Linked DNA regions of Homo sapiens. The protein of the gene in region 4 interacts with the protein of the main gene of each other region in a pairwise test. Each region holds a gene or a part of one and is shown on either strand. Other genes may lie near its edges.

Region 1 (7,662 bases), on a different chromosome or scaffold from region 4:
CTGAGGTGGGAGAATCACCTGAGCCTGGGAGGTTGAGGCTGCAGTGAGTGGAGATTGCACTACTATACTCCAGCCTGGGTGGCACAGTGAGACCCCGCCTCAAAAAAAAAAAAAAAAAGAAAAATTAGCTAGGTGTGGTTGTGCAAACCTGTATTCCCAGCTACTTGAGAGGCTGAGGTGGGAGAATTGCTGAGCCTAGGAATTTGAGGTTGCAGTGAATGATGATAATCCCTGCATTCCAGCCTAGGCAACAGAGAGAGACCTTGTCTCTAAATAAATAAATAAAAATTTTAAAATGAAATATTACTAGGATCACTGTTCATAATAGTCAAAAAGTGGAAACAATTCAAATGTCCATATTCAGTAAAATGGATAAACTGTGGCATAATCATATGATGACTCCAGCAGTGAAAACATGAATGAACTTCAGGTACACATAACAATGTGGGTGACTCACAAATTTGAGCAAATGATCCCAGGCACAAAACACACACAACATGATTCCACTCATATCATTTTAAACAACAGGTGAAACTAACTACACTGTTTAGATATATAGGTGGTAAAACTTTACAGAAAATAATTAATTCAACAGATAGTGATTAACCACAGAGAATAGAAAAGTTATAATGAGAAGGATTCAGTAGGGGCTTCTGGGAGACAAGTAATATCCTTTTTCTTCACTGGGTGATGAAGCTGTTCATACGTGCTCTGTGCACATTTCCTTTTTCCTTTTTTTTTTCTTTCTTTGAGACAGAGTTTCGCTCTTATTGTCCAGGCTGGAGTGCAGTGGCACGATCTCGGCTCACTGCAACCTCTGCCTCCTGGATTCAAGTGATTCTCCTGCCTCAGCCTCCTGAGTAGCTGTGATTGCAGGCGTCCACCACCACACCTGGCTAATTTTTTGTATTTTTAGTAGAGATGAGGTTTCACCATGTTGGCCAGGCTGGTCTCGAACTTCTGACCTCAAGTGATCCACCTGTCTTGGCCTCCCAAAGTGCTGGGATTACAGGCGTGAGCCACCGCACCCGGCCCTGTGCACTTTTCTTATGTGCATTCTAGTTCCACAGTTAAAAGCAGTAATAATATAAAAGGAAAGAAACATAGGGAAAGAGACGGTGGGAGGCAAGCGTGCCACCTCTGCCCTAGAGGGCTCTGAGAGAGGCTCATGCCCCCATTCCCGTGTGAACCTCACACCCTTCCGCCATCCCCACTCCTAACGTGGGTCTTACTCACGCATCTCCCAGGAAGAGGCTGGGCCAGACCTCATCGATATGGTTCAGTGTGGCAGCCTGACGGACCCACAGCAAGCGCTGCAGCGAAGCCAATGTGGGCGGCTGGTAGGGAGATGCCTGGACTGCCCCATGGATCTTGGGCCTCCGGAGGTCCTGCTTCTGCAGTGAGTCCATCCTGGAACAGAGTGGACACCGCAGTGGCTGGAGGCAGGCTCCCAGAGGGTGGATCCAGCTGATGGGGAAGCCCATGGTGCAGTGCCTAGGTGCCACGGGGATGCTGCAGGAAGGGCTTCATCTATTTCACATGAGGTATTAACAAGCTCAGCTGGGGCTGAGGCCTAGAACCCTTCCCCAGGGAACAAGGGAATCAAGCCTTTGTCACTGCTATGGAGCTGGGCAGACCTCTCTCCTGCCCTCTGCTGAGCTGCAGATGTATGAAGCTTTGGCCAAGGGGCCCTTGGAGTTCCCTGTTTGTGGCACTAGTCAGTGCAGATCTCATCCCTAAATCAGCTTGGACTTTGTAGGGATGAAAGCCCCAGATGGCTGTGGCTCTCAGGGCACCCAGGAAGCCCCCACCAACCTAAGCAGCTCATCTCAAGCCCCCTCACCTGCTACTTCCAGTACTCATCCTCAGACCCCCGTCCCCTCCCACTTTCAGGGGCTTGGAGATCAGAGCCTATCTCCAGGTAAGAGGCCAGGACTGTGAACTGGTATTTGTTAGCAACTCCGCATGGAATGAGCTAATGCCTCTTATAAGCCTGATGCCTCTGGCTGGGCACGGTGGCTCACACTTGTAATCCCAGCACTTTGGGAGGCTGAGGCAGGCAGATCAACTGAGGTCAGGAGTTCGAGACCAGCCTGGCCAATGAGGCAAAATCCTGTCTCTACCAAAAATACAAAAATTAGCCAGGTGTGGTGGTCCACTCCTGTAGTCCCAGCTACTAGGGAGGCTGAGGCAGGAGAACCTTTTGAACCTGTGAGGCAGAGGTTGCAGTGAGCTGAGGTCACACCACTGCACTCCAGCCTGGGCAACAGAGCGAGAGTCCATCTCAACAACAACAAAAAGCCTGATGTCTCACTCGTGGGATATCTGTTCCTATTTTACCCAGGAGGAAGCTGAAGCTCAGAATGTTTTAAAAGTGATGCCCAAAGCCATACGGCTCATGAGTAGCAAGGCTGGGGTTTTAGTCCATCCCCAAGCCTTTCAGTTACCATCTTTGGGGCCTCCAGAGAGTGGTCACTAACCCATCTGCTTCCTCAAGGGAGCCTGGTACTGCTGAGCCACACACCTGCCTACAGGCCCTGGGTTTTCCTCCTTACCCCCACGACTCAGGCCAGCACTGGATGTCAGGCCCCACCCGGGTCAGGTAGCTTGTTTCAGGCATCTGCTGGCTGAAGGAGTCAGGGACCCTGCGGAGCTGGATTTTCAGCGGCACCAGAATATGGGCCTGGTGCCGTGTTGGAGAGGGGGTCCTGTCTTTGCTAACTGCCCCTGATCCCCTGGACCAGTGACTAGGGAAGGTGCATACTGGGAAGAACATCTTTTCCCTTTGGTAGGCAGTGCCAGGACCAGAAAAAGAAACAGGCACCCAGGAGGCTGCCGGCTTGGCCAGGCTCACCCAGTGGGAGGCTGTCGGGCAAGGCGGAAGTGAAGACCAAGCTGTCCTCCTCATCCCCCACTGTGACCTCTCCAGGTGGCTGAGTGGCCTGCCACCTACCTGGGGCATGGCCTGGGGCCGGGAATGGGGGAGTGGGTGCAGGGGCAGGACTCTGCCTGAGCGGAACAGGGCTGGGCAGGTTCTGCCCAGAACACAAACACTGTGAAGCGGCTAGAATTCCAGGTGCTGGCTGGGGCGCCCATGGGGGGTGGGGCCTGAGAGCCGACTGAGGCCTTGTGGACTGCAGTGGGCCCTCCGGTCCCTCTAAACCCCCAGGCCTCCTCTCTGCTTGGTATCTGTTTGGGATTGAAGACCGTTGGTTCCATAAACCTCCATGAAGATGGGAGTCTACCTGAAGAGGTGGGAAGAGAACTTCTGAGGCAGGGAGGAGAGCCTGGCTCCCCCAGCACTCTGCCATAACTCATTCTGTGGCCACGAGCAAGTCTTTGCTCCCATCTGGACCACAGTTTATCTTCCCATGCTAGGGATGCTGGACTTAATTTTCAGGATGCTCTGGGGGTCTGACCCGAGAATGAGAGAGGAGTGTCTGGATATGCGGTCACTGCAGGGCAGAGGGCAGTGTAGTGTGGTGGAGTTGGGGAAGCCCCCAGGACCCAGAGGAGTCCAACAGCCACACTGGTCTGGAGCCATCAGGTGGGGCTGCACCACCCCAGGCAGGAGATGGGGCTTTGGGAAGTGGGACAGGCTCCGGGCTCAGGCCTGCGGAGCTTGGCATGGGGTGAGGCTGCCCCCTGGTGGCCAATGGGTGTGTCACAGCCCAGCCTTGCCAGGGAGCAGGCAGCCAGGCTCCACCCCCAGGAGGCTCCAGAGGGGTCAAGGATTTGGGGGCTGGTAGGCCACAGTGCATGCCTCTGCCTCCGAGGGGACCTAGGCCCAGGTCTGAAGAACGGGGCTCTCCCCTGGACTTAGCGCTATGCCTGGTCAGGCTCCACCTAATGCCTTGCTCCCGATGCTCAGGGTGTTGCCCCACCTGTCCACTCTAACCCACTGGGACCCAGCCCATCCCATCAGTCAGAGTCAGGCCCGGCCACCCCCCCAGGGACTCGTCCTTTAAGCCCCAGTCCCTCCCAAGGAGGGGAAGTCGGTGGTTGTGGCAGCTCCGCCGGTTTCTGACACCTGAGACTTGGTCTTCGGAGGGCCCTGCCTGACACTACATTCCATGTCTCCTTGTCCCCAGCTGGGTGAAGCACAGGCCCAACGTCCAGCAGGGCCAGGGCCCGGCCGAGCTCCCCTCCCACTCCCTGCAGTCTTCCTTCTCTCCCTGATCCCGTGCTCCTCCTCGCCCCCTTCCTGCCTCCCCCGCTCAGCAGAGCAGCTGCCTCTGTAGGCAGGGCTTTTCCTGGCTGCTCCTGTGCTGCTGCTGTTTGCAAGTCCATGCACTTCTTTTCTGTGTTTGCATCTCTCCTCCCTGGGTCACTCCCCCGTTTGCCTCTGTCTCCCATCCTCCCCCAGGAAGCTCATGTGCCTTTGCAGCCTCCCATGACGCTGCTCTGTGTGCCCAAGACATCGGGCAGAGGCACAGGCTTCCTTGGGGCAGGGGGCAGCTGTTTGCCATCCACCTCTCAGCTGCAGTTTCAGATAGTCCCCTGGACTTTCTTCCTGCCCATCCTTTCTGACTCCACTCCAGGGAGGCCAGACAGAAGTGTGGCCACAGGCCATGTGGGGCTGGAGATCTCAGGGCAGGACCAGTGAGGAGTGTGGGGAGAAGGCCTGCAGAAGGGTGGCGTGTGGCTGCCAGTGGGGAACAGCTGTGGGTCTCTGTGCTCAGCCTGAGGGTCTTGGGGAGGGCAGACCTGGGTAGAAATCTCAGGTCTGGTACTTGCAGCTATGTGGTCTTGTCTTCACCAAGCCAGTTTCTTCAGTGGGGCTGCTGTGAGAATTCCATGTAATAATTAATGTAAAGCACCTCCCACAGGGTCTGTCTTATGGTAGATGCCCAATAAATGGCACGTCTTACTATTATTATCACTACTATAATTACTCTTACCCTTTCCAGCCCCAGCCATATCCTATGTGGAGGGTAACTTCCCTACGGGACAGTGAGATTTCTTCTCTATCTCTGTATTTCTTGATATTTCTTTCTCTGTCCAGCAATAATTGTTATATTTAGCACTCATCAAGGATGTACTATGTGCCAGACAGAGCTAGGTGCTCACATTTTCTCATTGAATCCTCACAGTGCCTTTATGGAGCAGGTAATATTATCATCCCCATTTTACAGATGAGGAAACCGAGACTCAGAGAGGTTAAGCAACATACCCAGAGTCACATAGCCAATTGATGTGGGAGTCAGGATTCAAACCCAGGTCTCTCTGACTCTACTATACCTTGTCTGCGCCTTCATCTCTGACCCAGTCGGTTCTCTACCCAACCCAAACCCCACCCCTCCCCACACAGGCACAAGTGTCCTGGCCCTCATTACCCAGCATGCTCAGGGACCACATCCTACCCCCCCCAAATTAGGAGCACTCACCCACCTGTGGGAGTATCTGGCCCAGGCTGTGCACTTCTCTGACGGGCAGTTCGTGCTGCTGGCTTTCAGCCGCCTGTCTCCGCACACTTGATGCTGTTTCTATTTTTTGATTTGAGTTTAATTATAAAGCATGCTGTCTACTCCCCTCTTCCAGCCTCCCCTGCCACTCCCAACTTGTCCACTGGTTCCATGGCATGGCCAGTGCCAAGCACAGTCAGGCACCTTTCCCTCCAGGCCCAGGCCTCTGTCCCAGCACTGCTAAGAATCAAGGCAGCTCAGCCCAGGTCTGACTGTGGCATATTGTGTACATGTATGTTGATAGTGGGAGAAGGGGCCGGGCGCGGTGGCTGAAGCCTATAATCCCAGCACTTTGGGAAACCGAGGAGGGTGGGTCATGAGGTCAGGAGATCGAGACCATCCTGGCTAACAGGCTAGCCGGGCGTGGTGGTGGATGCCTGTAGTCCCAGCTACTCAGGAGGCTGAGGCAGGAGAATGGCGTGAACCCGGGAGGCAGAGCTTGCAGTGAGCCGAGATCGCGCCACTGCACTCCAGCCTGGGCGACAGGGCGAGACTCCGTCTCAAAAAGAAAAAAAGAAAAAACAAAAAGAAAAAAAGAGATAGTGGGAGAAGGAAGATCAAATAAACCATTTTAAAAGGTCCCTTGGCCGGATGCAGTGGCTAATGCCTATAATCCCGACACTTTGGGAGGCTGAGGTGGGAGGATTGCTTGAGCCCAGGGGTTCAAGACCAGTCTAGGCAATATAGCCAGACCCTGTCTCTACTAAAAATACAAAAAATTAGTGAGTTGGGCTGGTCGCGGTGGCTCATGCCTGTAATCCTAGCACTTTGGGAGGCCGAGGTGGGCGGATCACCTGAGGTCGGGAGTTCGAGACCAGCCTGACTAACATGGAGAAAACCTGCCTCTACTAAAAATACAAAATTAGCTGGGCGTGGTGGCGCATGCCTGTAATCCCAGCTACTCGGGAGCCTGAGGCAGGAGAATCATTTGAACCCGGGAGGTGGGGGTTGTAGTGAGCTGAGATCACGCCATTGCACTCCAGCCTTGGCAACAAGAACGAAACTCCGTCTCCAAAAAAAACATTAGCTGGTTGTGGTGGCACACACTTATAGTCCCTCCTACTCGGGAAGCTGAGGTGGGAGAATCACCTGAGCCCAGGAAGTCAAGGCTGCAGTGAGCCCTAATCCTTGACCATGCCATTGCACTCCAGCCTAAGCAACTGGAGTGAGACCCTCTCCCTTGGCCTTCAAGGGTATTATAGAAGAAGGGCAGGAAGTTCAAGTTGGAAGGATGTTCTGTGGAGGAGGACAGTGAAGAGGCTAGCCAAAAATCACATGTAAACTGGTGGCATTGCCAACAGCAGGACCCAGGTCCGGGGCCCTCAGTTAGGGGCCAAGGCCGATGGGACAGGTCCAGGATAAAGACCTAGAAGACTCAGGCTGAGGGAAGCAGCACAGGCCCACACACAGACACAGGTGTAGAGCAGGTCTTCAGACAGCCCTGGGCTGCAGGCAGAAGCAGTGTGTCCAGGGCCACTCCCACCCTCTGCCAAGCTCCTCCCCCAACCCAAAAGGCAGGGACACCCAGGCCCCACTGTCCCCTGAGGCCAGAGAGATGGTCTTTAAGGTCTCTCCCCATGCTAACTGTGGTCAGCTAGGACCTTCAATTGGGCCTACTAGAAATCTTCTCTGTCATCCACAGACCTTTGTCATACACACATACCTTGATACTACTCCCCGCTTGCACTCCCAGATGGTGGGAACAGGGCACACCCATGCCTGCAGCCATACCTGCACTGGGTCTCTGAGGTCTGAGCTCCAGGGAGCTAAGGCTCAGCCCCTCCTGGGGCTCTCTGAGCCCTGAGGGGAGCTGCTGGAGACAGCTGTGGCCAACAGCTATCACAAATATCTGGAACCCCCTTCCTCTCTCCTCCCCTCCCCACTTTCCCAGGGAACTTGGGGTCCCTGGCCAAGAAGCCTGAGGGCTTGGCTGAGAGGGGAGCCCACTCCCACCTGTGGAGACTGAAGACAGTGGCTGAGAGGGGGTGTAGGCGCCAGGAGGAGCCAGATGGAGTAGCAGGCTCTAGGGCCGACCCCACGCTGGGCTTCCACCATCTTCTGTGTGTCCGCCTGGGCCAGAGCCTCCAGCAGCACCAGCAGGATCAGTGCCAGGGTGGCAAAGTGGCAGAGCCCCATGGCAGGGAGTAAGGACCAGCTCTGGAAGAGAGATGAGCTCTGTGTTACAGGCAGGTGAACC
Region 2 (6,002 bases), 850 kb from region 4:
CAGGACAGGAGGTGTGCAGGAATTAGATATTTCCTGGGAAACTAGAAAAACATCCCAGCTGAGGTTGGGAGGTGAATCACCAGTGGGCAGGGCGTGGTCCTGGCTGTCTGGGCTCTCCTGTCCCAACCTTCCACTCCCTGAAACCTGCAGCACCTGCTGCACCCACCACCCTCTTGTCGACACGCTCCTTCTCTTGGAGGCCTTTCCTGGGGTCCCCCCAGTTCCATGCGCTGTATCCTCCTGCTGTCCGACCCATGGACTGACCCCAGCTCACAGTCTCAGTCTCGGCCCCAGGGAGCGCAGGTCAGCTCAAATCCAGACCTGGCTCAGCTAGGGCTGTGGACACGCTGCAAGCCCTCGTGCAGTCTCTGGGCAGACCCGGGACTTGCAGGCCAGGGGAAAGTGTGGACGTCATGAGGCAGTGGCATCCCTGTCCTTGCAGTGTCCACAGTGACTGTGTGTGTGTGTTCTCGGGTCCACATAAAGGGGCAGATGCCCTGTGTCCAGCTACAACCCCCTCCCAAAGGAGCCTGCAGCAAAGAAGAATTGCTGGGAGGAAGATCACCCTGCTTTATTGCCTGGGCCTTAAGGTAATCAGGGGTGTCCCTCTCCAGCCAGGACCTGGGATTCCGTTTCAGGAGCTCGGGCTGAACGGCCACCTTCCTGGTGGGTCTGAGCCCCAGTGCCTGGTGTGAAGGGGCAGACGCCCATGACAACAGCCACCCCGCATGTCCCGGCATGTCCCGGCACTGTGTGAGCCACATTTGCTGAAGTCTGGGTCCTGGCCCTGGCAGGGTGGGCTGGGCTAGGAGATGACACAGCAGCAGCAGCTGTGGCAGCGGCAGAAGGGGGGGCAGTGGCAGCAGTGGCAGCAGGGGCAGCAGCAGCAGTGGTGGGCGATGTCATCCCCGCGCCCCGCGGGCGGAGGGCCAGCGTAGGTCAGTCCGGCCTGGCGCTGACTGCTGCTGTAGGGGTTGCCAGGCTGCTGCCAGGCCTGCTGGTTCTGGATGGGGGCAGCCCCCTGGTTACCCTTGGCGCCCTTGGGCCCTGGGACCTCGGTCGGCTGCAAGAGGTGGGTTGGCTCTGGGGCACAGGGCCCCACTGGCAGGGGCTGCATCTCCGAGGATGAGGAACAGGTGGAAGCCACCTCTAACTGCTGCCCCAGGTCAGGCCGCAGGTGAGCCCGGGGGATGCTGATGTGGGCATATGGGTTCTTGACGACCATCTCTTGGGGGTCCATGGTCCAGCCTGCAGGGGTGGGCAGAGAAGACAGACATGAACTCAGTGGAGTGGGATGGCTGCCCACGAGCCTGCGGCCCAGGAAAGCCCCCACCAGGAGCAGCGTGCCTCGTCCAAGCTCAGCATCCCCAAGGCATCAGTGCCGGGGTGCCATCACCTCCAAATGTGTGTGCAAGGCTAGTGTCATGGGTGTGAGCCAAGTGTGAGCAAGCAGCAAGGGCCGGTGTCTCCCAGCTGCCACCCCTGCCAGGGATCCTCCCCCTCCCCTGGTGGCATTGGTCCTGGGATGGAGCTGGGAATGGGGTCGGGGAGGCTGAGAGATGGGAGAGAAGGGGGCTGACCCTGCAGTGCCCCTGAGTTCAGGGCAGTCCCGGCGGCCAAGGGCTTACCTGTGGTGGCAACACGGCAGTCTGTCCTCTCGGTCTTCTGAGCTCTAGGTCCCAGTGCCTGAGTTGAGCGACTGGCAGCCGCCTTTTCCCTCCTTGGGAGGGGCGGGGCCATGGGGCGGGGCTCAGAGATGGGGTTCCCAAGATCCCAAGAGGCCCCAGCAACTGGAGCACGACAGCTGGCCCAGCCCTCGTCCTCAGGTGGGTGGCAGCCCAGGCCTGGGCTCTGAGGGGCACTGCCAAACCAGTGACTCAGCCCCTCACATCCGGGGCATGGCCTGGGCCCTAAAGGGCATCTGCAGCTTGCCTGAGAGGAGGGCAGGAGGTGAGCCTGAGGTCACGGCTCTGGAAAGGAAGTGGGGTGAGGCCCTCAGATTCCCGGGCCTGCAGTCCCCAGCCATTGCTCACACACCTCAAAGCCCCGGCGAGGCAGGGCTTCTAAGCCTCTGAGCCTCTTCTTAGCAGAGACCAAGATGCTTGAGAGCCATTGGCTCTTGGAGGCTTTCTGCTTCTTTTCTGAGATGGAGTCTTGCTCTGTTGCCCAGGCTGGAGTGCAGCTGCGCGATCTCGGCTCACTGCAACCTCTGCCTCCCGGGTTCAAGCGATTCTCCTGCTTCAGCCTCCCGAGTAGCTGGGATTACAGGCAACCACCACCACGCCTGGCTAATTTTTTGTATTTTTAGTAGAAACAGGGTTTCACCATGTTGGCCAGACTGGTCTCCAACTCCTGACCTCAGGTGATCCGCCTGCCTTGGCCTCCCAAAATGCTGGGATTACAGGCGTGAGCCACCGCGCCCGGCCGATTTTTGAGACAGGGTCTCACTCTGCCATCCAGGCTGGGGTGCAGTGGCATGATCTGGCTCACTGCGGCCTCAACCTCCTGGGCTCTAGTGATCCTCCCACCTCAGCCTCTTGAGTAGCTGGAAGGACTACAGGTGCACCACCACGCCGGCTAATTCTTTATAGAGATGTAGGTCTCACTATGTTGCCTAGGCTCATCTCAAACTCCTGGACTGAAGTGATCCGCCTGCCTCCACCTCCCAAAGTGCTGGATTCCAGGCGTGAGCCAGCGTGCCCAGTGGCTTTTCTGCTTTTTTCACTGATAAAAAATGTTTGATTTGCACGTTTTGTCACAGGTCTTATCTTACAATCAGTGACACGGGCTTTAGACACTACTGACATTTTTAGCTCATTTCTCAAACTGCAGTTACCCTCTGGCTGGCGGGCGTGGGGGCCACACGCGCCCCCCCAGCGTCCCCACCTTGGGCCCCCCGCCTCCAGCCGAACCCAGGCTCCATCTGCACCGGCGCAGGCAGGGGTGCAGCGGGCACTGGCGAGTGCCGCGGGGACGACCCACGGCAGTGGGGCCCTTGGGGCCCAGGGGAGCACCAGGAAGGGCGGGTTCCAGTCAGACGTGGCCTGTGTAGGGCCAGTCAGACCGGTCGGGACATGAGTTCAGGCAACCCGGCCCCGATTTGGGGAGAACTGGGTGCTCCTGGGGACCCAAAACTTGAGAGGCCGGCGACGGAAGTCCACTGCGCAGGCGCCGGAAGTCCCGCCCACCTCCCTGCCTGCCACTTGAGTGGCGCCTATGGCGCATGCGCAAACAAGGCAGGAACCGGCCGTGGAAATATTATTGCCCAGAAGCCCACGCGCTCCGGGGTTTCCCGAAAGACCCGGTTCGGATGTGACCAATACTCGGCTTGGGGTTCTCCAGCTCTGAATGGCGGGTCTGAAAAGGCCTGGCCTGGGGGGCGGGGCCTCGTGGCGGGGGCGGGATCTCATCCCCTACGGGGTGGGGTCTCGCTGAGGGGGCGGGGCCTGCGGCCTGGTGCTTCCTCGGGCGCACGCCGGGTCGGTGAGCAGAGTCTGCGGCGGAGCTGGGCTCCCGGCCCTCCCCAGGCCCAGGCTGCCTCAGTTGCCCCACCATCTTGCCAGGGCCCCGTAAGGACCCCTCCAGCAGCGCCCCTGTCACCCGCACACCTCTCCCTATTGCTCTTCTGAGTGACACTCGCCCGAGGCCCCACAGAGGGGCCAAGCCAGACCCTATGCGCAGGGCTGCTCCTCCAGCCTGTTTTGCCCACGCGAGCTCCCGCACCAGCGGCACCGTCCCCTCTGGGCTCAGCACTCTGCAGGCCCTGGGGCTCTGCCTAGAGCAGGTGCGGTCTGGCCAGTCCAGCGGAGAGAGGAGCTGAAGGAGGCCAGGATGTCCAGGGCCAGGTGCGGGGCCAGAGCTGGTCACAGCGTGGCAGCGGAGGCCCTCGAAGCCCTGGTCCCCTGCCTCACGGTGACCAGCAAGCCCGAGGGCTCCACAGGCAGAAGGCGGACCCAGGAGGGCAGGGAAGCCCCGGGTGAGGAAGCGGAGAGGCCCGGGCCTGCGCGCTGGAGTGCCAGGGGCCACCCTGTCCGGGCAGGTGCGGTCCTCAGGGCCGCCTCCACCCCGCACTGGGCTGCCAGCCTGTCCTTCGCGCACTCCCACCGGACCCGTCCGTCCACCGGCCTCGGCCTTCTGATCCGCTCCGCCCGCCCCGCTCTTGCCCCTTAGAGTCACAGCGATCTATCTGAGCTACGGCACCGGGCACAGGCGGAGCTGGAGGACTCGGGGCCTTCCCATGGGGCGGGGGGCCGGGGACGGGGGAAGGCACCGGTGGGCCCTGGAACCAGCTCCCCTGGGATCCTCCGCGCAGGTCCCCTCCCTCTCACTCCAGAGTCCTGAGGCCTCCTACTGTGAGGGAGGAGAACAGCCGGATTCTCCTCCTGAATCTGGGGGGGCGGGGGCTTGACCAGGACCCAGGATCAGCCTGGAGAGAACTGGGGGCGACGCGGGGGTCCTGCCCCCCACGCAGTCCGCGGGCGAGAGCGACGCCGGGAGCGGACCGAGGGGCGGCCGGGAGGCTGGCCCCGCCCCGCGGACCCCGCGCGGGTCCCCAGACGGGGGGTGGCGCTGCGGGCGCGGGCGGGCGCCGCGCGCACTGCGGTCCCCGCGCCTCCGCCGCAGAGCGCGCCACGCTCCGCACGCACCTGCCGCCGTCGCCGCCGTGCCGAAACCCGCGCCCCGCGCCCCACGCCCGCGCCCGCGCCCCTCGGTGCCGCCCGGGCCCCGCCATCGCCTGAGGTCGCTGCGGCCGCCGCCGGAGCCGCCGGAGCCCCCCGAGCTGCCGGGCCGAGGCGCGGGCGCCGCGTCCGGGCCTGCCTTTGAGACAACCTCTGCGGCGGCGGCGCGCGGCCGGGACGCCAGGCTGGGGCAGGTGAGCGCAGGGGGCGGGGGCCGGGGGCGGACTCAGCGCCCCTCCCCACGCGACGGGGGTCGGCCCTCGGGAAGGTGCGTCTGGCCTTGGAGGCGGGGACCGGGGAGGGGGTTGGGTTCTGAGGCCCGCGGAGGTCGGGATCCCACGGCTGAGGTCAGGGTCAGAGGTCGGGCGCCCGGTCCTTTGTGCAGGGCGAGGGCTAGGGTGGGGGTGGCCGGGGCACTGCCCTCATGCCGTCTCTCACCTGCAGCTCAGGCCTGGCCCAGGCCTCGCCTCTGCTCCTGCCGCGGAGCCTGCCGCCCCGGTCCTCCTGCAGCCAGCGCTTCGGCTAGCTGCCTTCCCTGGGCGCCCTGTCCTGGAGCCATGGGGCCCACCCAGCCCCTGCCTGCCCCGATGTCCCGGCCCGCGGCCTGCTGACCTCGGCTGCAGGGGGAGCCCCCCCCGCGCCCCCTCGCCAGCCTCAGCAGCCAGAGACCCTGGGTGAGACCCTGGGCCAGACCCCCAGCCCAGGGCAGCCTCCCACCCCTCCCTGCCCCCGCCTGCCTCCCCCTCCCCCACCCCTTCCTCCTCCTCCCAGGACTGGACCAGAGAAGCCACTGTGGCCACTGGGGGGGGCCCTGCACCCCCAACTCTCGCCGGCTGTCCCTAGGAGTCCACGGGCCGTCCGGGGCCCCCCCCAGGCCTGGCGGGACCAGGATGCTGCCCTGTCACCTGCCCCCCAGCCCCACACAACGCCCCCACCCACCCGAACATCCAGTCTGACTGGAGACAGCCGGATGCCCTCTGACCCCGGGCCCGAGGCGGGCAGTGGCTGGCCGGGCCTCCTCATGTCCTGCCTGAAGGGTCCCCATGTCATCCTCAAGATGGAGGCCATGAAGATTGTCCACCCTGAAAAGTTCCCTGAGCTACCGGCTGCCCCCTGCTTCCCGCCTGCTCCCCGGCCCACCCCAACTCTGGCACCCAAGCGTGCCTGGCCCTCAGACACAGAGATCATTGTCAACCAGGCCTGTGGGGGGGACATGCCTGCCTTGGAAGGGGCACCCCATACCCCGCCACTGCCACGGCGGCCCCGTAAGGGAAGCTCGGAGCTGGGCTTTCCCCGCGTGGCCCCAGAGGATGAGGTCATTGT
Region 3 (3,374 bases), on a different chromosome or scaffold from region 4:
GATGCTGTCTTCAGGAGCCTGACCCTCCTGCCAGCCTCAAAGGGGAGCTCTCCTTCCCAGAAGGCCCTCTGTGCACTGAGAAGGCCCTCAGGTCTGAAGCCTCCAGTGGACTTCCACTCCAGCCTGCGTCTGAGCACCAGAGTGCTTGGCTCCCAGCCACTTCTGGGCCCTTCTCCCCCTGGGAACTCTAGGGTGGGCCGGCCAGAAGGTCTGAGCATGGCAGAAGGTATTGAGCATATCCCCAGGCCCACACCCCACTGTCATTCTCCCTGTGTTCATTGTTAGCCAAGGCGTGCCTCCCTGAGGCCCAGGTTCCTGCACTGCACCCCCTGTGTCCCAGACAGGGTGAGGGAGGTCAAGGGAGTTTCAAAGGAGCCACGTTTCTGAGAGGAGAGCAGGAAGATGACCGTGCCTTCATCAGAGGGAAAAAGTGCATTCAGAAGAACTGCAGCCTGTTCCTCTGGGGACCCTCAGGGAAATGGTCATTCAATACAAGAGAAGTGACAGACCAATGGTTTATTCCAAAGGGGAAAGCCCAAGCTGGATGTCTCCCTCCCCAACCCCTGCAAGCTGGCCCATCCTTCCAGAGCCCCCATAGGCCTGGGGCTGTTGAGACGGGAGATGTCCCCACTGTGCTGCTCCTGGTTTTGTCTCCTCTCCAATCCTTGAGCACCCTGATATGCAACATGGGGGGTAATCAGAAGGAGGAGGCAGCCTCTGATGGGGCAACGGCTGAGGGTGGGGGCAGTGTGTAAGGCACCTTTTGCGGTCAGCCCAGCCACACTCCATCGCCAGAGAGAATGCCAAAGTGTAGACTGAATGAAATTCTGTAGGCAAATGGTAAATGGTAGCTGGGCCAGTAGCTATTTGCATGGGTGGATTATATCATGTTAAGGGAATTCTTTATCTCAGCAGAGGGAACAGAGGAATATCTTGGCTAAGGTCATCCTGCCAGTCAGGAGAAGCCACCCTCCAGGGACCACAGACTCAAAGTGGCTGTGGTGGAGACCCACCGCCTGGGTAGGGTGATGTCAAGACACTGAGAGGTTTCCATCTGCAGTGGCCAAGGGCTGCAGGTTCTGCCATGCTGGGCATTGATAGGTAGGACGAGAGAGAGCACGTAGGGCCAGTCCTCTGGGAAGCAGGAGGTGGGCCATGTGAATGGGAGATGGGTGGCTGTGCTGTCCAGGCATCTGCTGACAACATTGGGGGATAGGGCCTTGGAGAGAAACGTCTATAGGCCTGGAGACAGCAGGGCGTGGGCGGGAGAGGCAGGCTGATACCATGCGGGTACTCACTGCTAGCCCCCAGATCCAGCCCGAGAGGAGGAGGCTGGCGGGTTAGGGCAGGCCCCAACCTATCTCACCCCTGTGATGGGTTGGCCTCTGAGCACAGGAATGATGGTGACCATCTGAGGTCACAAGGCAGGAAAGGAGTCTGAATGGAGTGTGGCCAGTGGGGAAGTCGGAGAGGCCGGAACTGCCCCCAAGAGGCTGGCAGAGGGCTGCAGAGGGCAGGTGCAGGACCAGGCTCCCTCCCACCCAGACAAGCACAGTAGCTTAGAAGGCAAGAGCAGCAGGGTCAGGAGGAAGAGCAGGGGTGTGGCGCCTCGTTCCTTCCGCCAGGAGCTCATGGGGCTTCGTTGGACCCAATCCCGTTGCCTTTGTTGACGTAGAATGGCCGGTAGTGAGACTGTGGGGGAAACAAGAGTGGTCAGCGAGGCCAGACGACAGATGAGCCTGCTAGCTAGACCCACCCTACCCTAACCTGCCTCAGGAGGCAGCAGTGATCCAAGACCCGACAATTCTAGGGGCCTTTTTGGCCTGATCTGCAAGATTTACCTACCCTGTGATCAGGGGCTGGTCCCTAATGTCAGGATCTCCAGATTGGAATCCTAATTGGAGTCCATTCCCATAGTTAGTGGGTGAGCTTGAACCTCAGCCCCCGCATTACACTGGTCGAAATTTCTCTCCACAGCTCAAGGAGGTTCCTCCAGCGCCACCACAGCTACTATTTATATAGCACTTTCTACTCCACAGAACTTCACAGCACTGTGTCGAGGGCTGTATGTGGATGCACTCATTTAATTTTTACAACCACCCAATTAAATAGATTACTATTATCATATTCAATTTATAGTTGAGCAAACCAAGGCACAGAGAGGCTAGGCAACTTGCCCAAGGTCACTCAGCTGGTAAGCAAGGAGCCAGAATCCAAGCCCCAGCAGGCTGCCTCCAAAACCCACACCCCCAGCTGCCAGTTCTCGGCATCACTTCTCTTATGGTGAGGGCTTCCAGGATTTTCTTTGCCTCTCTCTGCATAAATTTCCCTTACAGAAAGGGTGCAGAGAGGGTAAAGAACTGCCCCAGTCCAACACGGTCCCAGGCTCCCCACAGCCCTTTGCCTCTCTCGTCCTGTTCCTCTTCCCCCAGCCATTGGTACAGGGAGCATCTCTGGAGAGAGAGCCCAGTGACAGCTCTCCCAGCCTTCTCCATGTATTGTATCTCCCAGTAATTTCATGAAATCAGCATGCCCCACCCTGCCCAGATAACTTCATCAGGGCCCTGAGGAGGCAGCCCTCCAGGATGGAGTGGAAGAGCACAGCTTAGCTGCTGCTCACCCACGCAAGCACCATCAGCCCCCGGGGGTCTCAGGAAGAGGATTTGTCCCTGAGCTGGGTCAGAGACTGAGCCCACTCCCATGCCCTGCAGATCCCAATACAGGAGACATCATTTGCCCCTCACACACACACCTCAAGGGTACACTGCCTTTGGCCCTGTCTCTCAGGGAACTGACACCTCCTGGTCAGCTCCTTGCCTTTGTGTGGTCCACAGCAGGACTTGAGGGATGCTCAGACCTTGCTTAAACCACCTATTAAACAAAGGAAGAAACTGAGACCCAGGGAGGGGTAAGAACAGCTACTTACTGGCAAAGCAGAGCCTGGACCAGGTCTCCTGACCCCCAGGGGCCAGCCTGGACCCCAAGCAATTCATAGGGCAAAGTGAACAGATTTGGAAATGGCTGAAGCCTTTCTTTGAGGAAGATTGGGTCAATAATATGGGTTGCAGGTCAATGAATGGCATTGTCTGGTTAAAAGCCTGGAGTGGTAGGTGGGCATCAGGGCAAAATGCTACCTTCACCCTCCCATCCCCTCCCTGGCTTGAGGTCACAGCACATACAGCAGGTGGAAGAGCTGCAAAATCATCCTAATTATGGATGGGAAAACTGAGGCACAAAGGAATCATTTTTCCTCATGCAAAGTCACACAGCAAGTCAATGAGACAGCTGGGGCCAGCCCCCAGGGAAATTGATTCCCAGCTCAGCTTCTCTGCAGCCCAGCGCCTGTCTCCACTCTCCCAGTGCTGGGTGCCTGC
Region 4 (6,906 bases):
GCCTTCATGAGGCTGTGCTTGAGCTGGTCAATCTGCAGAAGGTCCAGTGAGCCTGGCTGTCCCCTCCAGGCGGTGACCGCAGACCCGTGGGGCCACCCCCGACCGCCCCGGCCTGCAGACCCCGCCAGGCCAGGCGAGGGTGGCCTGGTTTCCCGGGGGCAGCGGGCGCACCTCCAGCTGCAGGTCACGGTTCCGCATGAGCGCGGCGCCCTTCTCCTCACTCTGGTGCGCCAGGCGCATGGCCAGGTCGTAGTTCTCCTCCTTGCAGCGCTTGAGCTCGCGGCTGCCGGCCTCGCACTCCTCCTTGAGCCTCTGCACACGCTCCTGGTGCTTGCGCAGCAGGCTGTCCTTCACCCGCAGCTCCTTGATGAAGTCATCTTTGGAGCTCAGCAGCGCGGTCAGGTCCTGCACCTTCTTCTGCAGCTTCATGACCTCAGTCATCAGCAGCTGAGTCAGGCCTGACTCCCCGGACGCGTCTGTGGGCCAGGCCAGTGTCAGATGGTGCCGTGTTCCCCGGTGGCCCAGCTCCATCACGCCCTGCGCTGTGGCAGGAGCTCAGGGCTCCTAGGGATGGGGGCCAGGCAGAGGACCCAACACCACTGCCCGCTCCCCGCCAGCGCCTCCCCTGTCGGCCCCGCCTCCCCCGTCACTCACCGATGATCATGGAGAAGACGCGGGCCGGCTCCTTGCCTGTGACCTTCTTGTACAGCTGCGGGTAGTAGAGCTCCAGGCTCTCGAGGAAGGCCACGTAGCCCTTGTGGCCGGTCCGCTGCAGGATGTCCAGGAGCACACCTGCGGGCCAGAGAGGCCTAACTGGGGGCGGGGCACAGGCGAGGCAGAGGGCTGGGGTGGGTGGGCCTGGGGGCAGGGACAGGTGGAGGCTGGCATGCAGATGAGGTGTGCCGTGGTCTGGGTCTTGGATGAGGTACCCTGCGGGTCTTGGTACTAGGCTGGGGACCAAGTGCTGCCCACCCGCCCCTTGGCTGTCTCAGGAGCCCCCGCTGCGGTGGGAGCCCCGCTGCCCCTCTTGGCAGCACCAAGCCGGCAGGAGAGGCTGGGGGACGGGCCACGTGCCAGGGTTGAGGTTGGGCCTCAGTCAGAGGCCAGGGGCAAAGCCAGGCGGGGCTCTCCTGGGGTTGAGGGTCAGGGTGGCAGAGCGTGCAGCCACCTCCGAGCTGACTCTGTGGTTGGGTTTGGGGCCTGGGGCCCGCGGGGCAACACTGACCCACTTTCCGTTTGCGGATGACCAGGTTGGGGTCGCTGAGCACCTGCTCCTCATCATCGGGGTTCAGGACCTTGCACTGCCGCAGGTAAGGTGTGATGCGTGAGGGGTCGATGACCGAGGTGAGCGTCACCCGGAAGCCCTCCAGGACGCTCCAGCACTCGTCATCGTTCTCGTAGTCCGACATGGCCTCAGCAGGCAGGCTGGGGAGTGTGGGGCAGTGCTGAGAGCGATGCCGGCTCCTGCCCCCACCCGGGCCCAGCTCCCACTCCTTCTCAGACGCTGGGCCAGGGCTCTCGTCAGGGCATCGAGGGGGATCAGCCCAGGGGCATCCAGGAGAGGTGCCCAGCTCCATGTCCCATCCCCACGCTGGATCCCCCAGGGAGGCAGCAGAGACACAGTGACCCCGCTCCCCACCAGACCAGCCGAGGGCCCCTCCGCAGCCTTTCCCAGCCCTTGCTCCTGCCCGTTGGCATCCATGTCACCCAGATACGCAGCGGGGGAGGCACAGATGGGGTCTGAGAGAGGAACTCCCCCTACAGCATGACCCCCTCTGGCCTCTGCCTCCTGGACACTCCCATCACGCCCTGGAGCCTGCAAGGTTAGCCACCTCCATGGCTGGAATGGGCAGAGGAGCTGAGGGCAACTGCCTGGCACTATGGCCAGCCCAAGCTGGGTGAGAGCAGGTTGGCCAGTGGCCCTCCCACCAGCACAGCAGCTGGGGGAGCCGGTTCTTGTGGGACTTCCTCATTCCCCTGACCGACGCCTGCTCACATCCCTGGCTGTGCCCTCCCTCCTCCACGGCCGGCTGCTGATGATGCAAGAGTGGCCACCCAGCCCTGCTGCAGCTGCGGGGTCGCTGCACTGGCCGGGAAGAGCTGCCCACAGGAGCGTGTCTCTGTCACCCCCTGCCGGCCCCGCAACCCTGGGAGGGGCTGTCAGTGTTGCCCTTGGCTGGCCAGGAGTGCTGCTGCGGTGTTTTCTCCAGGTTGAGGTGCCGGGCACCAGTGAATCCCTGGACTCTTCTCCTGCCCCAGATGAGGCCCGGCCCCCATCCCAGTGGCTGCAACAGAACTACCCATGTTGGGACCAGCCACTGCTGTCCCTTTCTGCCAGCATGGTGGGGGCCTCAGCCGCTGAAAGCCACTCCCTCTGAGACTGGGACTGCGGCAAGGCTGGGAGCAGCCACGTGGTCCTCAGACAGCCTCCAGCCCCGCTGGGAAACGCTGGTTTCCAGCCCAGAGGAGCTGGGTCACTGCTCCTGGAGACATAGTTGCCCCAGGCTTGGTCTTTTGAGGCATTTCTCAACTTCCCGCTGCACTTTGTCACCCCATTCAGGACAGTTTTGACAGACAAGGGACTGAATAAAAACACTGGCCACACGGTAGACAGTCCTGGGAACACTGGGCCCCTTTCCTGCTTCCCCAGCTTGAAATGCAGGGTCCCATCTGCCACCGTAATTCCACTGAAATGAACACATCTCCGCCCAGGGGCCGTGAAAGGGACGGGGCCGCATGGCGGAGGCTGCCTGGCTGCCTGTGGGAAGCCTCAGGCTGCTCTGGGGGATCAGTGCCAGGATCCTGAACTAGGCCAACGCCAACCTTCCTGGCCACCTTTCAGAAAGCACCAGACCCACCCACCTGAGGGTCTTCCAGGAGCCACCTGCACTGCAGACACACCAGGAGCCTGGGCCGCGGAGCCTCTGGGAGATGCTGCCCGGGGCTGCAGGGAGGGAGGAGCACGCCGGACGCCTGTGCACTTCCTGATGGGTTCTGCTTAACTCCACAGTCCCGCCAGTCCTCCCACAGGGGGACAGTCCCTGGTGACCTGCTTTCTGATTCGCCCAGCCCAGGAGGCCCCAAGAGGCAGACGGAAGTGGAAGTCCGCTGCCCTCCAGAGGAAAGCTGCTCCCAGCCCTCCCAGCCTGGCCGGGGGCTGGGGGTCCTGGGGATGCCCCAGAGGCCCAGCCCTGGCACCTGGCAAGTAGAAGAGACAGCAGAGACCCCCAGGGGGCTGGACAAGGCCAGCCCGCACCCAGCCACTTTGACCTGGTCACAGGCTTCTGGAGACTTCTTCAGTAAGGCATGCTTTGCTCTGTGCGAACACCCTCGCCCTCGCCAGCATCTCAGGACAGCGGGGCAGGGCATGTGCAGGGGGGCACACAGCCACACGGCATGGCCAGCACACGCCTTGGTCACAGAAGGGCTGCAGCCCACCTTATGGAGCCCAGGAGGCCACAGCAGCCTGCCAGGGGCCATGGCATCGGCCACCACCCAGCTGCACACGGGGGAGAAACGTCCCTTCCAGAAGTGTCGTTATCCTCGTTATCCCCATCATGAGGCATCCCTGCTCTCCACCAGGATGCATGTGAGGACTGAGGCCACTCTCGGGGTCCCCCAAACCAGCTTCAGAAGAGCCGGTGACAGCAGGGCACAGCTCGGCCCCCATCCAGGGACAACGGACAGCAGAGTCTGCCCTGAACTGTGCACTTCAGCGTGTGGGCTGCCAGAGCCTCATCCCTGCAGGCTTGGGAACCCCCAGGCCCCGCCTCACCCGGTAAAGCTGGTTGAACTGAGTTGCCACCCAACAGGTTCGAGAAGGGGCCGCCAGGCTGGAAGGCAAGGAAGCTGGTGTGGAGCTTGCCTAACCGTTCTCAGCCTCCAGCCCTCAGGCCTCTGTGCGGACAACGTCTGACATCACACATTAAGGAGCGGACAGTTAGGGGTCCTCCTGGGCTCTCGGGAATGCCACATTCCAGGGGGCCGTGCCCCTGCTGGACCCCTCACCATCAACATGAGCGAGTGTGCAGGCCGGGGCCATCCTGGGCCCTGCCAGGGAGCGAACCGGAGCTGGCACCAGGCCCTCATGACCCAGTGTTTCCCCAGCGTTTAAAACGCGGACCTTAGTGACTTCCCTGTGGTGTGTGTCCTTAGGAGTGAACACACATACCATGTTCTCTAACCATATCGGAAGCTAAAAATCGGTAACAGATATCGGCAAAATCTCTAAATATTTGGAAATTAAATAATATACCGCTAAATAACCCACAGATCAGAGTGGCCCCCAGACTAGGCACCAGACTAGAGAACCAGGCACAGCAACACATACTCAGGAGTGAGGTCGGCCATGGGACCGTCCCGTCTGCCAGGTGCCCAGGGCTGAGGCCCCACAGTGGCTCCAGTGAAGGATCGAAGCCCAGATAGCCAAGGGCCTGGGGGCGCTGCTGCCACAGAGACAAAGGAAAGGGAGCTAGGGGACAGACGGAGAAGATGGGGGCTAGTCTTATGCCAATAAAGGCCCATGCAAAAGGAACAGTGGAGGGTGGGGGCTGCCGCCGTGTCGGGGTAGCCAGGTCATCTGTTCCAGGGAACCCCCTGGGTCAGCCAGGGCAGCGCGAGGGCTGGCAGCCATCTGGGGAGGGTGCCGGCTAGCCTGAAGGACAAAGCCACAGATGCTTTCCAGGAAATGGGCGAAAGAAAGCCTGCTTCTCTGACAGGAGGGCAGCCGGGGTACGGGAGGCCTTCCAGGACCCCAGCTCTGGGCCCCCAGCACCCTGCTTGTTCCCGAACTGCCTGCACTAGGGTGGCTCAGCCACTAGGCAGCAGCCTGACCCCAGCCAGGTGGGGGGTCCCTGTACACTGCCCGGTACCTCAGGACAACAAAACCACAACAGCCTGTGTCCAGCTCCACAATTAAAAACAGAACTTTATTCCTCCAAGTGTTCAGGTGTGCACTTGGGGAACAGCCATGCTCCATGCCACACAGTCAGTCGGCAGGCCCGCCTCTGTTCACTGCGGACCTGGTCAGTCAGCGGCCAGCAGATACCTGGCCTCTGGCTGCCTCTCTTGCAGGCTGGGGGTGGGCTGTCTCTCGTCAGCAGGGCCACGGGCTTCTGAGAAAGTGCTTGTCCTGGAACACAGGAACACCAGGTGGGGGGTGCCCTTGACCCCAGCCAGACCCCAAGCAGGGCTGGGACAGACAAACAGGAACCAAGACCACCCCAGCGCCGGCCACGCCCAGTCTGCTTGGTAAACCTGACCCACATGCGCCAAGGGCCAGGCCAGGGCACCAGGGCTCCAGCAGTGAAGAGCCAGCCTGGTGGCTGCGGTTGGGGATGGTGATCGTTTTACAAGCTGGGAGACGACGCAGCAATGCACGGGAACAGGGCACCACCAGAGCACAGCGGCCAGGGAGGAGCCCAGACCCCAAAGGCAGGGAATGAGCCTATGGTCAGGGGCACAGTGGTGCCAAGGCCCGAGGCATGGGTGGCCAGCAGGAAGGATGTGGGTTAAATGCTTCTCCCCCTGGAGGGCCTCCATGACCCTGGACCTGCCCACCTAACCCAGCACACCTGCTGTGAGCGCCAAAGAGCCGAGCAGAGGCCAAGGCCCCCTGCCATCTGGACACCACTCTGTCCCCTGGGTTGTAGGGCAGTGGCCTCCCCACTCAGGACTCACCTGCTGCTCACACCAGCCGCCTCCGCTTCCGGGTGTGCCTGGCATGCCGGGTTCTGAGCACGTCCAGGTCGTCAGGGTCATTAGAAGTATCCAGGCAGGAGGAAGCAGAGCATTTACCAGAGTCTGGGGCTCCCTGAAAGAAAATCCAGGCAGTGGGGACAAGAGTGACACCCCCGAGCCATGATGGACGGGGAAGGGACGGGAGTGAGGAGGGGCCCTGTGGGTGAGTGTCCCACTTGGGACAGGGCACCCTCAGCTCAGGCGGGAGCTGCTCCAGGCACTCCTGGGGCCACACGTGACTGTGCACTCCCTCCCTCGGGGGCTCTGACCCCATCCAAGCCATCCCTCTGGTGGGCCTCCCACTCCCCCATGGGACAGCCATCACACCCAGGCAGGGCAGGAGGCTGTACATGGATGGGGCACAGAGGGCCTCTTCCCCTGGCTGGCCGGGGTCCTCCCCAACTCTTGGACATTGCTTCCTCCCACACTTCAGCCCAGGGACTTGCGAGACACAACCCTGGGGAGAGATGGAAGGCCCTCTGCCACACTCCCTATGACAGGCCCACAGGTCCAGCTGAGGCTGCCTGCTTCTGGTGGTTTCTCAGGGAGGCCAGCCTCCCAGCTGCTGCAAGTGGGCACCCTGGCACCAGGGGAGGAGGCCTCTCTGGGGGCCCCAGCTCCACATGCTTTCCAGGGTTCCAAACATGGTTTCACCTACAGAGATTGGAAAACTCTCCCCAAGGACACTCAGAGAGGTGACAGCAGAGAGGGACCTTTGGGACCCCAGAAATCCAGAGACAAACACAGCCACCACCCTCCACTGTGCCCATGGCCCACCCTGGGAGCACACGTGTGTGTGGCGTGTGCGGCTCAGAGCCGGGTCAGCGTCCATCCCAGAGCTTCTCGCTCAGACAAGGCCACCTGGCTGGGCAGCATCAGGATGGCCGGAGGCTCCTGCACGAGAATGAGGCCTCTCTTCTCCCCTTTTCCACACTGCCCCAAAGGGAGGCCACTTCTGCAGAATCTACACGCAACTGGGCAGGCCAGGAACCAGCTTCCTCCTCCTAAGACACCCAGCAGCCAGCCTTCCTGCCCGCAACTTCCACCAGCCCCCACCCCACTGCTCCAGGCAGGCGAGGGCACCCCAGGGACCGCCGCCTGCCATGGGGAAGTGGGGCTGGGCGCCCACCCTACCTGAATGGGGCATGTGGCTGTCGTGCAGCCCGG

Evidence for each region.
Region 1: the proteins of CARD9 (region 4) and DUSP13B interact in binary tests that used the Homo sapiens proteins (3 or more experiments, as listed by UniProt).
Region 2: the proteins of CARD9 (region 4) and CYSRT1 interact in binary tests that used the Homo sapiens proteins (3 or more experiments, as listed by UniProt).
Region 3: the proteins of CARD9 (region 4) and TRIM29 interact in binary tests that used the Homo sapiens proteins (3 or more experiments, as listed by UniProt).

The regions. Positions count from the first base shown.
Region 1 is NC_000010.11:75,096,476-75,104,137, forward strand, and holds the start of DUSP13B (dual specificity protein phosphatase 13B), read right to left. Parts: upstream 3,038-7,662; 5' UTR 2,963-3,037; coding exon 2,556-2,962; intron 1,411-2,555; coding exon 1,237-1,410; intron 1-1,236. UniProt on the Homo sapiens protein: Dual specificity phosphatase that dephosphorylates MAPK8/JNK and MAPK14/p38, but not MAPK1/ERK2, in vitro. Exhibits intrinsic phosphatase activity towards both phospho-seryl/threonyl and -tyrosyl residues, with similar specific activities in vitro.
Region 2 is NC_000009.12:137,220,860-137,226,861, reverse strand, and holds CYSRT1 (cysteine-rich tail protein 1), read right to left. Parts: upstream 1,689-6,002; 5' UTR 1,629-1,688; intron 1,249-1,628; 5' UTR 1,241-1,248; coding exon 806-1,240; 3' UTR 547-805; downstream 1-546. Other genes in the region: RNF208 (RING finger protein 208), read left to right, coding at 5,650-6,002. UniProt on the Homo sapiens protein: Component of the stratum corneum that may contribute to epidermal antimicrobial host defenses.
Region 3 is NC_000011.10:120,110,785-120,114,158, forward strand, and holds the end of TRIM29 (tripartite motif-containing protein 29), read right to left. Parts: intron 1,693-3,374; coding exon 1,630-1,692; 3' UTR 502-1,629; downstream 1-501.
Region 4 is NC_000009.12:136,370,670-136,377,575, forward strand, and holds the start of CARD9 (caspase recruitment domain-containing protein 9), read right to left. Parts: upstream 3,001-6,906; 5' UTR 2,863-3,000; intron 1,426-2,862; 5' UTR 1,410-1,425; coding exon 1,226-1,409; intron 793-1,225; coding exon 655-792; intron 477-654; coding exon 172-476; intron 33-171; coding exon 1-32. Other genes in the region: SNAPC4 (snRNA-activating protein complex subunit 4), read right to left, coding at 5,687-5,812, 6,874-6,906. UniProt on the Homo sapiens protein: Adapter protein that plays a key role in innate immune response against fungi by forming signaling complexes downstream of C-type lectin receptors.